Linked DNA regions of Homo sapiens. The protein of the gene in region 3 interacts with the protein of the main gene of each other region in a biochemical or structural test. Each region holds a gene or a part of one and is shown on either strand. Other genes may lie near its edges.

The links.
Region 1: the proteins of PARP1 (region 3) and IKBKG form a complex in vitro, tested with the Homo sapiens proteins (one study listed by BioGRID).
Region 2: the proteins of PARP1 (region 3) and FOXO1 form a complex in vitro, tested with the Homo sapiens proteins (one study listed by BioGRID).
Region 4: of the proteins of PARP1 (region 3) and GZMM, one has a biochemical effect on the other in vitro, tested with the Homo sapiens proteins (one study listed by BioGRID).

The regions. Positions count from the first base shown.
Region 1 is NC_000023.11:154,561,120-154,564,619, reverse strand, and holds part of IKBKG (NF-kappa-B essential modulator), read right to left. Parts: intron 2,933-3,500; coding exon 2,836-2,932; intron 1,811-2,835; coding exon 1,667-1,810; intron 1,062-1,666; coding exon 919-1,061; intron 662-918; coding exon 600-661; intron 302-599; coding exon 159-301; 3' UTR 1-158. UniProt on the Homo sapiens protein: Regulatory subunit of the IKK core complex which phosphorylates inhibitors of NF-kappa-B thus leading to the dissociation of the inhibitor/NF-kappa-B complex and ultimately the degradation of the inhibitor.
Region 2 is NC_000013.11:40,656,642-40,660,141, reverse strand, and holds part of FOXO1 (forkhead box protein O1), read left to right. Parts: intron 1-3,500. UniProt on the Homo sapiens protein: Transcription factor that is the main target of insulin signaling and regulates metabolic homeostasis in response to oxidative stress.
Region 3 is NC_000001.11:226,366,594-226,370,093, forward strand, and holds part of PARP1 (poly [ADP-ribose] polymerase 1), read right to left. Parts: intron 1,729-3,500; coding exon 1,606-1,728; intron 1,016-1,605; coding exon 887-1,015; intron 1-886. UniProt on the Homo sapiens protein: Poly-ADP-ribosyltransferase that mediates poly-ADP-ribosylation of proteins and plays a key role in DNA repair.
Region 4 is NC_000019.10:542,748-546,852, reverse strand, and holds the start of GZMM (granzyme M isoform 1 preproprotein), read right to left. Parts: upstream 2,801-4,105; 5' UTR 2,782-2,800; coding exon 2,727-2,781; intron 1-2,726. UniProt on the Homo sapiens protein: Cleaves peptide substrates after methionine, leucine, and norleucine. Physiological substrates include EZR, alpha-tubulins and the apoptosis inhibitor BIRC5/Survivin. Promotes caspase activation and subsequent apoptosis of target cells.

The DNA.
Region 1 (3,500 bases), on a different chromosome or scaffold from region 3:
GTAAGGTGCCGCGGCCAGCTCCTGGGTGGGGCTCCAGGTGGCATCCCAGTTGTGGCCACCCAGCCCTTCATCCTGGGCTAGGCAGGCGGGAGAGGAAAGCGCAGACTGCACGGTCCCGGGCACGTCCTCGGCAGGCAGTGGCCTTGCACTGGCCGGCCCTACTCAATGCACTCCATGACATGTATCTGCAGGGTGTCCATATCAGGGGCCTGATACTGGCACTTGGGACAGCAGAAGTCAGGTGGCTCCTCGGGGGGGCTCCTCCTCTGGCTGGGCAGGGCCAGGGGAGAGGAGAGGTAGGCTGGGAAAAGAGAAGAGTCAGAGGGAAGGGGAGGATGGAGGGGGACGGAGACTTGGCAGGACTGTCAATGGCAGGCCTGGTCTCACAGGCCACTCATGTAAGACCAGGAGCCGCCGCTACCACGGCATGCCTCCCTTAGCCTCGGGGAAGGGGGTGGGCTACCGATGGGGTGGCCTACACGAGCTCCCGCCGTCAAGTCTCCAGAGAGCAACAGGAAGGTCGAACTGTGACCTCCCGCGGCGCAGCACCTGCCCTCCCCACCCACCTCCTCCCGCAGGCCCAGTTCTCGCTCACTCACCAGGGGCGGGGGGCAAGGGGGCCTGGGAGACCTCGACATGCCGCTTCCTCATGTCCTCGATCCTTTGGAAACAGAAACCGTCCAGTCAAGCCACGCATTTCTGTAAAGCTCCTTGGCTGGACTAGTGTCAAAGCAGCTCTTGGAAGCTCAGGTGAGAGGAGAGGGACCACAGTGAGCCCTAACCCAGAACACCAGGAGCCATCCGTCTCCTGTGGTCACCACTGGCAACCCCCCAGTGTCGCACCCACTGCGGGGTCACCACTGGCGACCCCCCAGTGTCGCACCCACTGCTCACACGGGCACGCTCTCAGAGGCCCACCTGGCCGACTCCTGACAGCTGGCCTTCAGTTTGCTGTACTCCCTCTGCAGCTGCTCCAGCTGCTCCTGCAGGAGCTCCTTCTTCTCGGCCAGCTTCTCCCGGGCCTGCCTCTCAGCCTGGAAGTCCGCCTTGTAGATATCCGCCTGGCAAATCCAACAGAAAGGGATGTGCCCGCCACAAGCCAGCCACCCACCAGGCACTGCGCCAGGCACCACAGGAACAAAGCAGAACCCACTGCTGTCCTCCCAGAGCCCCCAGCGGCGCAGAGGAAACAGATACGTCGGCGAGTAATGCCAAGCTCACCGAGAGGTCTAAGGAGCAGCACAAGTGGCTCAGAAGCTTACGAAAGGCCACTACAAAATGATGCCAAAGAGGCCGGGTGCGGTGGCTCACGCCTGTAATCCCAGAACTTTGAGAGACTGCGGTGGGCAGATCACCTGAGGCCAGAAGTTCGAGACCAGCTGGGCCAACATGGTGAAACCCTGTCTCTACTAAAAATACAAAAATTAGACGGGCATGGCGGCAGGCGCCTGTAATCCCAGCTACTCAGGAGGCTGAGGCAAGAGAATTGTTTGAACCCGGGAGGCAGAGGTTGCAGTGAGCCAAGATCGTGCCACTAGTGGCACTCCAGCCTGGGCAACAAGAGCAAAACTCAATCTCAAAAAGCAAAAGCAAAAAAAAAAAAAAAGACGCCAAAGAGACTCTCCAGGTCCCAGTGCCAGGGTGGGTCAGAGAGGAGGGCCCTCACCTGGGCCTTCAGCACCGGAACGGTCTCCATCACAATCTTGTGCTGCTCGGCCTCCTCCTTCAGCTTATCGATCACCTCCTGTTTGGCCACCAGGGCCTCCTCGGCCTGCTGGAGCTGCTGTTTGAGATCTTCCAGCTGCATTCCCTAAGGACGGGCAAGGGGAGCTGACGGAGCCTCGTCAGCCCAGGGCGAGGCTGGCTGAGAAGAACTGAGAAGGATGAAAGAGTGGCCCTGGCTGACCAGGCTGGGTGATGCCAGCCCCTGATTTGAGGGCCCATTGCAGGATCTCAGCGTGCACAGGGAGATGGCTGCGTCCTGTCACGGCCCAAAACGACAGAGGAGATGCTGAGGTTTTTTTCAGGACTGAAGAGGCCGCTGAGGTCATCTGGTACAACCTCCCAGCTGGGCCGACATTCCCTTCCCAGAATCCCCAGCTCCACAGCCCTCCTCCCACCCTTCACAGGCCACAGGCCACACCCACTCACAGCCAGCCGGTCCTGTGCCCGCCATGTGCACAGCTCAGCTGAGAGCCCTCAGTCCTTCCACTCTGCCACCTGGTCAGAGGTGCACTCCTCCCACGCAGGCATCTCCAGCCCCCTGAGACACACACAGACACACCCCACCAACGCCCCCCTCCAGAGATTAAGTGGCCAGTTTTGTAGCTAACTCTTCCCCATGTGACCTGGCTTCAGGCTTTGTCCTTATAAATCTCCTCTGGGTACACTTACGATTGACGGTGTCCTGCTAAAATGTGATCACTAGCAAACTGCACCCCAGCTTAGGTCTGATGAGGACAAACTAGGAAAAGGCTCCCAGCCAACACTGGGGTGGAAATGCTGTCGGGCTTACCTTGGCTTGGGGGAAGCTGAGCCAGGTGCCAGATGGCGATGGCTGGCAAGAGGGAATGTCCATGGAGACAAGACGTCCCCAGCCCCACAGAGGGAGCACCCCAAGGCTCTGGCCCAGCCCCCCATTAAGATGGCCTGCTGACACTCCTGAGAGCAACATCCTGGGGTTGCCATCTCCCCACAGCTTCCCTGAGCTGTCGCAGCTGCAGCCTGACACAGGTCTAAGGCAAGTCTAAGGCAGGTCTACCCATTCTCAAGGTTCAGGGCCACGGGGAGAGGAAGAGGCAAGGCCAGCCCTAGAGCCCCAGTGGTCGCACTCACTCGCTTCCGCTCACTGCCCACCACGCTGCTCTTGATGTGGTTGTCGTATTCTTGGAAGAGCTGGTGATAGGCCACCTGCAACTGGGCCAGCTTCCTCCTGAGGAAAGGGAGCTTTTGCTGGAGAAACCACCTCATGCCAGTCCAGCCACGGTGCTGCCTGCTTCCAACTCTACCCCCTTCCTTCCCTCCCTCGCATCACAGGCCTGGAATGGGGTCTTCCAAGGCTGTGTGAGGACTCCTGAGGCCGTCAACTCTAAAGCAGGCTTTGGTGGGCTGGTCACCAGGCAGTTAATATCGTTTTCCTAAAAGCTAGTATTTTTAATGTTTATAATAAAATCGCGGCCAGACGCGGTGGCTCACGCCCATAATCCCAACACTTTGAGAAGCCAAGGCAGGAGGATCGCTTGAGCTCAGGAGTTCAAGACCAGCCCGGGCAACATAGGAAAACGCCACCTCTACCAAAAATGCAAAAATTAGCCAGGTGTGCTGGCCTGCGCCTATAGTCCCAGCTACCTGGGAGGATCGCTTGAGACCAAGAGGCGGAAGGTACAGTAAGCCGAGATTATGCCACTGCACTCCAGCCTGGACGGTAGAGCAAGACCCTGTCTTGAAAATAATAGTAATAATACAATGGAACTACCCTGCACTGTTCAAAACTGTGAACT
Region 2 (3,500 bases), on a different chromosome or scaffold from region 3:
CCTTTTCTTGGTACATAAAGAATTCTGATGCTTCTGGTGGTGTTCCTCAGCTGTGAAACAGAAGACCACATGTACTTGAAAAAGTATGTATTTTGATGCCTAAGGGATATGCTGTGTACAAATACTTAGAGTGTGGAAGACATCTTCCTCTTTGCCAGTTGCTGATGAGGATGAACAAAAATCAAGTCAGTGGCACAGAAATTCTTTTGTAGGTATTACTACTTGTTATTTGTAGTCTTCTAAGGAACATAGGAAACATGAAAAACACATTTTTGTACGTTGGCTATTTTATATGGTTCAGCCTTTTTAAAAACTTGCTTTATTCATTAGCATCCCAGTTTACTCTATTCCGTCTTCTCCCTGTGGTTTATCAACTTGTAGGTTAAGCACCGCCAATAGTTGAATCTAGGGTTGACTTATTCTTGCTACTTGGCAGGCATTTGGGCTACTTTTTTTTTCTTTCATCCATTTTTGTATAGTTTTGATAAAAACTAAAAAGGAAAACAAAAAAGCAAGTTAGTTTTGATATTAAGTCAAATACTACTAAAAAGGTAAATCTGCAGCTCCTCATCATACAATTTAGTGAATTTTTACCTTCACTTATTACTTTAATAAGGACATAAGTTCAAAATGTGTCCTTTATTTCAAGCCATATTCATTACAGGAAAAAAAAAAAATCAAGGGAGAGCTGTTTAGGGAATTAGCCTGTGTAGCCCCCAATTCTGGTTTTTGTTCTGATGATCCCTGAAGCTACACTCTTTATGAGAGTTGGGCGTGTGTGTGTCTAAGTCTTCCTTTTCTTTTCTTTTCTTTTTTTTTTTTTTTTTGAGACGGAGTCTTGCTCTGTCACCCAGGCTGGAGTGCAGTGGCGTGATCTCAGCCCCCTGCAACCTCTGCCTCCCAGGTTCAGGTGATTCTCCTGCCTCAGCCTCCCGAGTAGCTGGGATTACAGGCACATGCCACCACACCTGGATAATTTTTGTATTTTTAGTAGAGACAGGGTTTCACCATGTTGGTCAGGCTGGTCTCGAACTCCTAACCTCGTGATCTGCCCACCTAAAGTGCTGGGATTACAGGCGTGAGCCACTGGGCCCAGCCTAAGTCTTCCTTTTCTTTTCTTTTTCTTTTTTGAGATGGAGTCTTGCTCAGTCATCCAGGCTGGAGTGCAGTGGTGCAATCTTGGCTCACTGCAAGCTCCGCCTCCCGGGTTCACGCTATTCTCCTGCCTCAGCCTCCTGAGTAGCTGAGACTACAGGCGCCCACCACCACGCCCGGCTAATTTTTTTTTGTATTTTTAGTAGAGACGGGATTTCACCGTGTTAGCCAGGATGGTCTCCATCTCCTGACCTTGTGATCCACCCGCCTCGGCCTCCCAAAGTGCTAGGATTACAGGCGTAAGCCACTGCGCCCGGCCACGTCTTCCTTTTCTTAGCTTTGCTTTGAGAAATCGTTTCTTATCTTGGATTCCATTACAATGGTCCTCCTGCCATCTGGCTTCTCCAGTTGGTTCGCTTATTTTTCCTTCTCCTATCCTCATTCATAAGTATACCTCAGGACTAGTTGTGGACTTTTTCTCTGGTATTTTCTTAGGTAACTTACTCTCTGTTGCCTTGTGTATCCAGTTACCTAAAGGCTCTGGAGGTCCCACTTTTATCTCAAATCCAGCATGTCTAAAACTGAACATACTGTATTTCCCCCTGCCCTCAGATGGCTCATTTCAAGGTCCCCAGTTGGGTTAATGGTCTAGTTAGTTCTTTCCCTAGTTTTCAAACCTTGGTGTCTTCTTGAGCACTCTCCTGGTGTTTAGTGTTCCCAAGTCTGTTAACTCTTCTTTCTCAGGGTCTGTTGAGACTTTCCGTTCCTACCCGCTAACCATTCCCCTCGTTTAGCTTTTAGTATTTCAGGCCTAGACGCTCCTGTCCCCAGAGCTTAGATCATCTTGAGCCCTGAAATTCAGCAGATCTTGCTCAGTGTGCAAGGTTCAAGTCAGTTCACCAACTTCCAATCTTGGCTCCTACCCAGAGGAATTTTTGTCCTCTGAGTGAATATCTGGTAATCTTTTAATTCATGCTGCTGTGTATTATATATAATTTAACTTTAATGTCTGTATGTCTTGGCTTCTCAGTTACATTGTAAATATGTTGTTAGGAAAAAAATTCTTTCTTGATACATGGGTCTTTTATATTTCAGCTTCCTGTGTGTTGAGAATATCACAGTCTGTATCATGTGAGAATAATTTAAGAAGTAGTATAACTAAAGAACAGTGATTATTTTGTTTTCAACAGATTGTCAGAGTCCTTTTTTTTCCATTTATTTGTTGAATAATTACTGTGTACAAGATGTGCTAGGTGTTTTTGAGTGGTAGCAATGACTCAAAACATAGATCCAGTAGGAAGACTAGATGCAATGTGTAAGTAACTATGATATACAGTGGGAAGAGTTAAGTGTCTTAGAGAAAAATGAAGTTCTGTATTGGCCGTTGAACCAGGCTTTGAAAATGGGAGATTGGGCCTGGCACAGTGGGTCATGCCTGTAATCCCAGCACTTTGGGAGGCCAAGGTGGGCAGATCATTTGAGGTCAGGAGTTAGAAACCAGCTTGGCCAACATGGCAACACCCTGTCACTGCTAAAAATAGAAGAGATTAAGTGAGTGTGGTGGCATGCATCTGTAGTCCCAGCTACTTGTGAGGCTGAGGCAGGAGAATTGCTTGAACTTGGGGCAGGGGGTTGGAGGGGTGGAGGTTGCGGTTAGCCGAGATCACGCCACTGTAGTCCAGCCTGGGCGACACAGCAAGACTCCCATCTCAAAAAAAAAAAAAAAAGAAAAAAAAGGATGGGAGATTGTTCCCTTACGATTTCGCTATGAAAATTTTCAAGCATTCAGCAAAATTGGAAGAATTTCTACTACCTTTTCTACTAATGACATTTCATTATGCTTGCTTGATCATATATCTGTGTAAATGCACATCTTTCTGTCCATTAGTTCATCTTATTTTCAAGATATATTTTTGGGATGGTGGACTGGCATTCATAAAGGCCTGAAAATATGGGAAGCATCAGTTTCTCTGAGTGCGAAGTCAGGAGATTGAGACCATCCTGGCTAACACGGTGAAATCCCGTCTCTACTAAAAAGACAGAAAAAAATTAGCCAAGTGTGGTGGCGGGTGCCTGTAGTCACAGCTACTCGGGAGGCTGAGGCGGGAGAATGGTGTGAATCCAGGAGGCGGAGCTTACAGTGAGCCTGGATCGTGCCACTGCACTCCAGCCTGGGCGACAGAGAGAGACTCGGTCTCAAAAAAAAAAAAAAATTTCTCAGAGTGATAGGCATGTGAAATACACAAACAGTTTGAAAAGTATAGGTAGAAAGGACATATTATGAAAATAATGCTGTGTTATGGACCAAATTTATCAAATGATATCTTTGTTTTTGCCAAATAAGAAATTATGAAAATATGATTACATTAAACAATTTTAAAATGCAACTACTTAGGAACACACTT
Region 3 (3,500 bases):
AACCTAGAATGCTGGTCTACCTCCCTGTCTTTTAATTAAAAGGCTTCAGAATTGTAAAAAGAGAATAAGAATCCCTTCACGAAGAACCACACCTACAGTTTTCCCATCAGGAAGGTGCTCTAGGGGCAAAACAAATGACATGTGGTGTCTTACCCTGCTTGGACCCATAGGTCTATACTTTGTCCTAGGAAAGAAGCCAAGGCTCTTTCTTTAGCGATGTAAACACCTGGTACCAGACTCAACATACTCTCGCCCACCCAAACCCCTGCAACACTGCAGGGAATGGGCTGAGGACAATGGGGCACATGAGTGTGGAGATAGGCTCAAGGACCGGGCCATCTAGAAGCTGAGGCAAAAATCCCTCCTCTAGTTGGTCTAAGCGGGGTGTTCAGAGACTGTGTGTGCCAACACAGTCCACTTCAGCACCAGAGAAAAATGAACGCAAGCATTGTGTTTTTATTACAGGTGCCATCAAGCATTTCCACTTCTGAAATGGACACCGGTAATAAGTCTTCTAAAAGTTCACGCTACAAGGGTTTAGAAAAACAGAGCTCCTCTCTAGATTAAGGAGAGGAAACAAACAAACAAACAAACAAAAAAGAACTTTTGGTAAGACCCTCAAAAATAAATTTGTACGCCAAGCTGAGGTGCTGGCTTGGAAGGCTGCCTTGCAAACAAGGTGCATTATCTACACGTGAAACGCCCAAAGGTTCTCAAAGGACCACCAGCAGCAATGTCCGGGAACTTGTTAGAAAAGTGAATTATTGGGCGCCAGCCACCTGTGTTTTAACAAGCTTTCCAGGAGATCCTAACACACATGGAAGTTTGGGACCGCTGCTCTCAGGATGAGAGGTTAAGATGCTTGAGGAAGGCCTGACCCTGTTACCTTAATGTCAGTTTTGAGCTTCTCATAGTTGACATCGATGGGATCCTTGCTGCTATCATCAGACCCTCCCCTGAGCAGACTGTAGGCCACCTCGATGTCCAGCAGGTTGTCAAGCATTTCCACCTTGGCCTGGAGGAGCAAAAGAAAGCCCCCGACTTAGGTATCATGGTGAATGAGACAGACTCACCCAGGTGGCAGAGAAAACCTACATGCAGAGAAGGTCCAACACAGTGAATGGCAAACCCTCCTGCTGGTCAGGGCCAGCCTGTTACCTGCTGCACATATTGAGAGCTCATAAGGACTTTCTGGAATGTTAACAAGGCCTTGTGGCCTGGGGGAGTTGAGAGGTGGAAGAACTGTCTTTCCTCTCGTACATGCTGACATTTGGGACCTACAGTGAAGGTACTTTAGACAAATGGGTCCTGAGCCAGGAGCTGTCTTAAAAGGCAGGGAGGGAAAATGGGGAGGAAGATGCTGTTATGAGGGAGAGGCTGTCCCTCTCCAACAGCTCTTTCCCCAGTGGATTTGGTAGAACAGGGGCAGGAAAAACAGCTCTGCCTCCATCAATGTGGGTAGAAACCCAACTTCAAAACAAGGGCAAGAGGGTGGCCCTCCCAGCATTGGTGCTGCCCTCAGGGATCATGATGGGGAGGGACGGCTGCAAGGTAGTCACACCCCAGCCCAGCAGACCTGCAGTCCCTTCTGAACCCTTGCGCTACCTGCACACTGTCTGCATTGTTCAGGAGCGGAGGCTTCTTCATCCCAAAGTCGTGGGGGATCAGGGTGTAAAAGCGATTTGAGAGATCCAGGATCTGAGAGTCGCTGCTGCCCTGAGACACCGCCTGGAGAGGAGGGGACAGAAGGAATGCAAGACTGAGGGAGCAGCTCCAAGCCCCCGGCCAGGCTTTCTCTTTTAGCAGGTGGGTGCTGCAGCAGGTCCAGAAGTAGCGTGGTATGTGCACATGCCAGGACACATGGGAAACGACCAGAAGACCATCTTCCTGTTAAAGAGCAGGGCAGGACCCCCATCCTCTAAAAGCACTGCTCAACACGTGATGGGCTTCTCCCATGAAGTTTCATTTGTACAAAGAACTGTGCAGTTACAGACATTTGAAACCCCGCCACAACTATGCAAAATGTTAACTGTAAAATCTAGGTGGTGGGCTAATGACTATTGCTGTAAAATTCCTTCAACTTTTTGTATGTTTGAAACATTTTCATAATAAAATGTTGGGAGGAGGTTGCCCATCGCTATAAAATTCAGTCAGGCTCCCTGCCTCCACTGACCTTCATTGGAATTAGTTTTTACTGTACCTGGAGGTTGAGGTGGCCAGGCACAGAAAGGCTAAGCAATCCTTACACTCACTGCCAGTGTCACTTGGTGCTCTATATGCAAAGGGTGCACAAAAAATGCACAGAGATGGAAGAGCGGGGCCACTGGGATTCCAGGAATTTCGCAGACAGCCTAGGTGACCACAGGAAGGTCAAGGGAATATGAAGTGGCACCCAGCAGGTCCGAAGCCCCACGCCTGCTTCTCGCTGTGACATGGACTTCACCAAGTTGTACAACTTCCATCTGTGCTGCCCAGGTGGCTCTGGCAATGGGTAAGGATGCTATTCCAGCTCTTCTTCCTGAAGACTATTGCATGGGAAGAAGCTGGGGCCGAGGAAAGCCTTGTAAGTTCTCAGTCAGTAAGGAACAAGGAGAGAGGTTCACTGCTCAGAGCCAGCTGTAACTGAAGTTGACAGATCCGGTTCAGCGCCTTTTCTCCAGCACCAGCCAGAAAGCCCGCTGCCTGGGCCCACTTCTGCTTCCTGTGTGCTTTCCTTCTTTCTACAGGCCAGGCCTGCACCCACCCACAAATATAAGCGGAACCCTCCAGCCCCTCCAGGATGTAGCTGGAAGGCTCCGGGACTGGTAGACCTTGAAAGATGCTCAAAGAATGTTGAAATAACATGAATGAAAGAGGCTTCCATTTGATGACTTCCTAGTAACTGCAAAATAAACTCTGCCTAACTCTTAAGGACACATAAAATAAAAACCACAACACAGGTGACCCTTGAACAATCGATTTGAAGTATGCGGGTCCACTTATACACAGATGTTTTCAATAAATACAGTTAGCTCTCTACACCTGTGGGCTCTGCAGTTGAGAATTCAACCAAACTCAGATAAAAAATATAGTATTCTCAGGCCAGGTGTGGTGGCTCATGCCTGTAATCCCAGCACTTTGGGAGGCTGAGGCAGGCGGATCACTTGAACCCAGGAGTTTGAGACCAGTCTGGCCAACATAGTGAAACCCCACCTCTACTAAAAATACAAAAAAATTAGCCGGGTGTGGTGGCCCATGCTTGCAACCCCAGCTACTTGGGAGTCTGAGGCACGAGAACCGCTTGAACCTGGGGATGGAGGTTGCAGTGAGCTGAGATTGTGACACTGCACTCCAGCCTGGGGGACAGAGCAAGACTCTGTCTCAAAAAAGAAAAAGAAAGAAAAATCCCACCAAAAAAAAAAAAAAAAAATCTCAGGATGCGAGACCCACAGATGTGCAGGGCCAACTTTTCTCCTCCATGGGTTCTGCAGGGCACTCTAGGACTTGAGCATGAGTGAATT
Region 4 (4,105 bases), on a different chromosome or scaffold from region 3:
TTTTTCTTTTTTTTTGAGACAGAGTCTCGCTCTGTCACCCAGGCTGGAGTGCAATGGCACGATCTCGGCTCACTGCAAGCTCCGCCTCCTGGGTTCATGCCATTCTCCTGACTCAGTCTCCCGAGTAGCTGGGACTACAGGCACCTGCCACCACGCCTGGATAATTTTTGTATTTTTAGTACAGATGGGGTTTCACCATGTTAGCCAGGCTGGTCTCGAACTCCTGACCTTGTGATCCACCCATCTCAGCCTCCCAAAGTGCTGGGATTACAGGTATGAGCCACTGCACCTGGCCATTTTTTTTTTTTTTTTGAGATGGAGTCTCACTCTGTTACCCAGCCTGGAATGCAGTGCCGTGATCTCAGCTCACTGCAACCTCTGCCTCCTGGGTTCAAGCGATTCTCCTGCCTCAGCCTCCCGAGTAGCTGGGATTACAGAAGCGCATCACCACGTCCGGCTAATTTTTTTGTATTTTTAGTAGCGACAGGGTTTCGCCGTGTTGGCCAGGCTGGCCTCAAACACCTAACCTCAGGTGATCCACCCTCCTTGGCCTCCCAAAGTGCTGGGATGACAGGCGTGAGCCACTGTGCCCAGCAAGAAATGTAGTCTTTAAATAAGTAAATTGTATAGTGCATAATTTCCTAATAAAGCTGTACAAAAATTATTTTAAATCAATCATAAATATAAAAGGATTGATTTCATAATGTAACGTAAATCAGCTCAAAATCTTCTCTGAATCCCCATCATGCTTTGAAAATCAAGTCCCCGCTTGCGGGCCGGTGCAGTGGCTCACGCCTATAATCCCAGCACTTTGGGAGGTCAAGGTGGGCAGACAGCCTGAGGTCAGGAGTTGGAGATCAGCCTGGCCAATGTGGTAAAACCCCGTCTGTACTAAAAATACAGAAATTAAGGCCGGGTGCGGTGGCTCACGCCTGTAATCCCAGCACTTTGGGAGGCCGAGGCAGGTGGATCACGAGGTCAGGAGATCGAGACCATCCTGGCTAACACGGTGAAACCCCGTCTCTACTAAAAATACAAAAAATTAGCCGGGCGAGGTGGCGGGCATCTGTAATCTCAGCTACTTGGGAGGCTGAGACAGGAGAATCGCTTGAACCCGGGAGGCAGAGGTTGTGGTGAGCCGAGATCGTGCCATTGCACTCCAGCCTGGGCAAGAATAGCAGAACTCCATCTTAAAAAAAAAAAATAGGCCGGGCGCGGTGGCTCACGCCTGTAATCCCAGCGCTTTGGGAGGCCGAGGCAGGCGGATCACCTGAGGTTGGGAGTTTGAGACCAGCCTGACCAACACGGGGAAACCCTGTCTCTACTAAAAATACAAAATTAGCCCGGCATGGTGGCAGGCGCCTGTAATCCCAGCTACTCGGGAGGCTGAGGCAGGAGAATCGCTTGAAACCAGGAGGCGGAGGCTGCAGTGAGCCGAGATGGCACCATCGCACTCCAGCCTGGGTGACAAGAGTGCAAGTCTAGCTGTGCCTGCAAGCTGCCTGCACCCTGGGCCTTTGTCTGTCTCACTTAGCTGCCTGCGTACCTTTCCCCCACCGGCTTCCTCCCTTGGTTTATGCTCGTCTCCTGCAACGGCCCCCCACCCGCCCTCTTGCCCTCCGTGTTTCCTCCGCTCTGCACAGTCTCATGCCTGGCCTGTCTCTTCCAGTCAGACAGGAGGGCAGGCCTAGAACAGCACGAGCCCTGCAAATACGGATGGATACACAGAAGCACGGGAGAAAGGAAGGAGGGATGGAAGGAGGAATGGATGATGGATGGATGGGAGGGAGGAGGGAAGGAGGGGGGAAAGGAAGAGAGAGGCATGATGGATGGATGGGTGGATACATGGAAGGAGGGAGGGAAGGATGACGGGTGGAGGGAAGGAGGGAGGTTGAAAGGAGGGATGGATGATGGATGGACGGGTGGGTGGAAGAATGGGAGGAAGGAGGAATGATGGGTGGATGGACTGGCGGAGGGAAGGAAGGGGGAACGAAAGGAGGGAGGGAGGGATGGATGATGGACCCATGGGTAGAGGGATGGATGATGGATGGGTGGGTGGAAGAATGGAAGGAGGAATGATGGGTGGACGGACGGGTAGAGGGAAGGAAGGGGAGATGAGGGAGGGAGGGAGGGAGGGAGGGAGGGATGATGGACCCATGGGTGGAAGGAAATAAAAATGGGAGGAAGGATGATGATGACTGACGGCTGGATTCCTACCTCTGTCCATCTTCTTGGGTCCCCAACTCATCAAGAGCCCCTGTCACTCAGTCCAGCTGGAATGCAGGGGAGCCGCCACCCACCTCCCTTCTCCCTCACTGCTGGGCACCTAGTCCCAGCCAAGCCCTTGGTGGTGGCAGGCAGCCAGCGGGGATCGAGTCCCAGCTCTGCCCTCCCAGCTGGGCAGTCCTAGGTCAGCATCTCCTTCGCCAAGTCTCAGTCTCCTACTCTGCACCTCGGGTGTGAGCGTGACCCCTGCCTTCTGGCTGCTGCCGGGAGGATGGGCGAGGTGAGCCGGTGGACACCACACTCTCCCACGGTCCCGGGATGTCCACTCGGGGTGAAGCGTGAGGAGCTCGGGATGCCCCAGGCCTCAGTCCCCCTCCAAACAAGGATGAATCTCCGCTCTTACACCCAGGATGTCGGCGCCCGCGCCCACCCCTCCCATCCAGGGACCCACCGAGAGCGCTGGGCCTCAGTGTCCCCCCTGCATCCCGGCTCCCACTCACCTACTGACAGGGCCCCCAGGGCCAGCACCAGCAGTGAAGACACGCAGGCCTCCATGCCGCTGTGGAGACCCAGTGTGGGTGCTGGCCCCGGCCCCGAGCCTCCCCACACGCGCTTCCTGTGGGGGAGGTGAGGTGACGGTCACAGCCCCGCCCACCGCTGCACACCCTCCACCCTCCATCCTTGAGCATTTTAGAAAGTGTTTCTCAAAGAGGACTCGAGATGAAGCCACACTACCATCATCACACCTGACAAAGTAACACTTTTTTTTTTTTTTTTTTTTCAGAGATGGAGTCTCGCTCTGTCGCCCAGGCTGGAGTGCGGTGGTGCGATCTCGGCTCACTGCAAGCTCCGCCTCCCGGGTTCACGCCATACTCCGGCCTCAGCCTCCCGAGTAGTGGGACTACAGGTGCCCACCACCACGCCCGGCTAATTTTCGTATTCTTAGTAGAGACGAGGTTTCACCATGTTGACCAGGCTGGTCTCAAACTCCCGACCTCAGGTGATCCACCCACCTCGGCCTCCCAGTGCTGGGATTACAGGCATGAGCCACCGCGCCCGGCCACTACTTCCTGCCTCTGAATTGGTCTCTAGGGACCTCCCAGGAGTGGAATCACACAGGACCTGTTGCGTTGGCGTCTCTCCCAGCATGACGTCCTCAAGGTGCATCCAGGCTGTGGCCTGTGTCAGAGCCTCGCTCCTTTTTGTGGCTGTGTCACATCCCATTGTGTGGCTGGACCACGCTGTGTTTATGCATTCACCAGCGGACGGATATTTGCGCTGTTCTAGTTTTTGGTCTTCATGAATAAAGACACTGGCCGAAGGCGGTGGCTCACACCTGTAATCCCAGCACTTTGAGAGACTGGGGCAGGAGGATCGCTTGAGCCCAGGTTGGGGCTGCAGTGAGCCGTAATTGCACCACTGCTCTTCAGCCTGGGTGACAGAGCAAGACCCTGTCTCAAAAATAAATAAATTTAGGCCGGGCGCGGCGGCTCACGCCTGTAATCCCAGCACTTTGGGAGGCCGAGGCGGGCGATCACCTGAGGTTGGGAGTTCGAGACCATCCTGGCCAACATGGTGAAACCCCATCTCTACTAAAAATACAAAAATCAGCTGGGCATGGTGGTGGGAGCCTGTAGTCCCAGCTACTCAGGAGGCTGAGGCAGGAGAATCACTTGAACCCAGGAGGCGAGATCGCACCACTGCACTCCAGCCTGGGCAACACAAGACTGTGTCTCAAAAACAAAACCAAACCAAACCAAGCAGCTATGGATGATCCTGAGACCTGGGTGTGGCTGTGCCAGTAACACTTCACTCACAATAGGGGCGGACGCCAGGTTTGGTCCCGAGGGCCATGGTTTGCTGAGACCCCAGGGCCCCA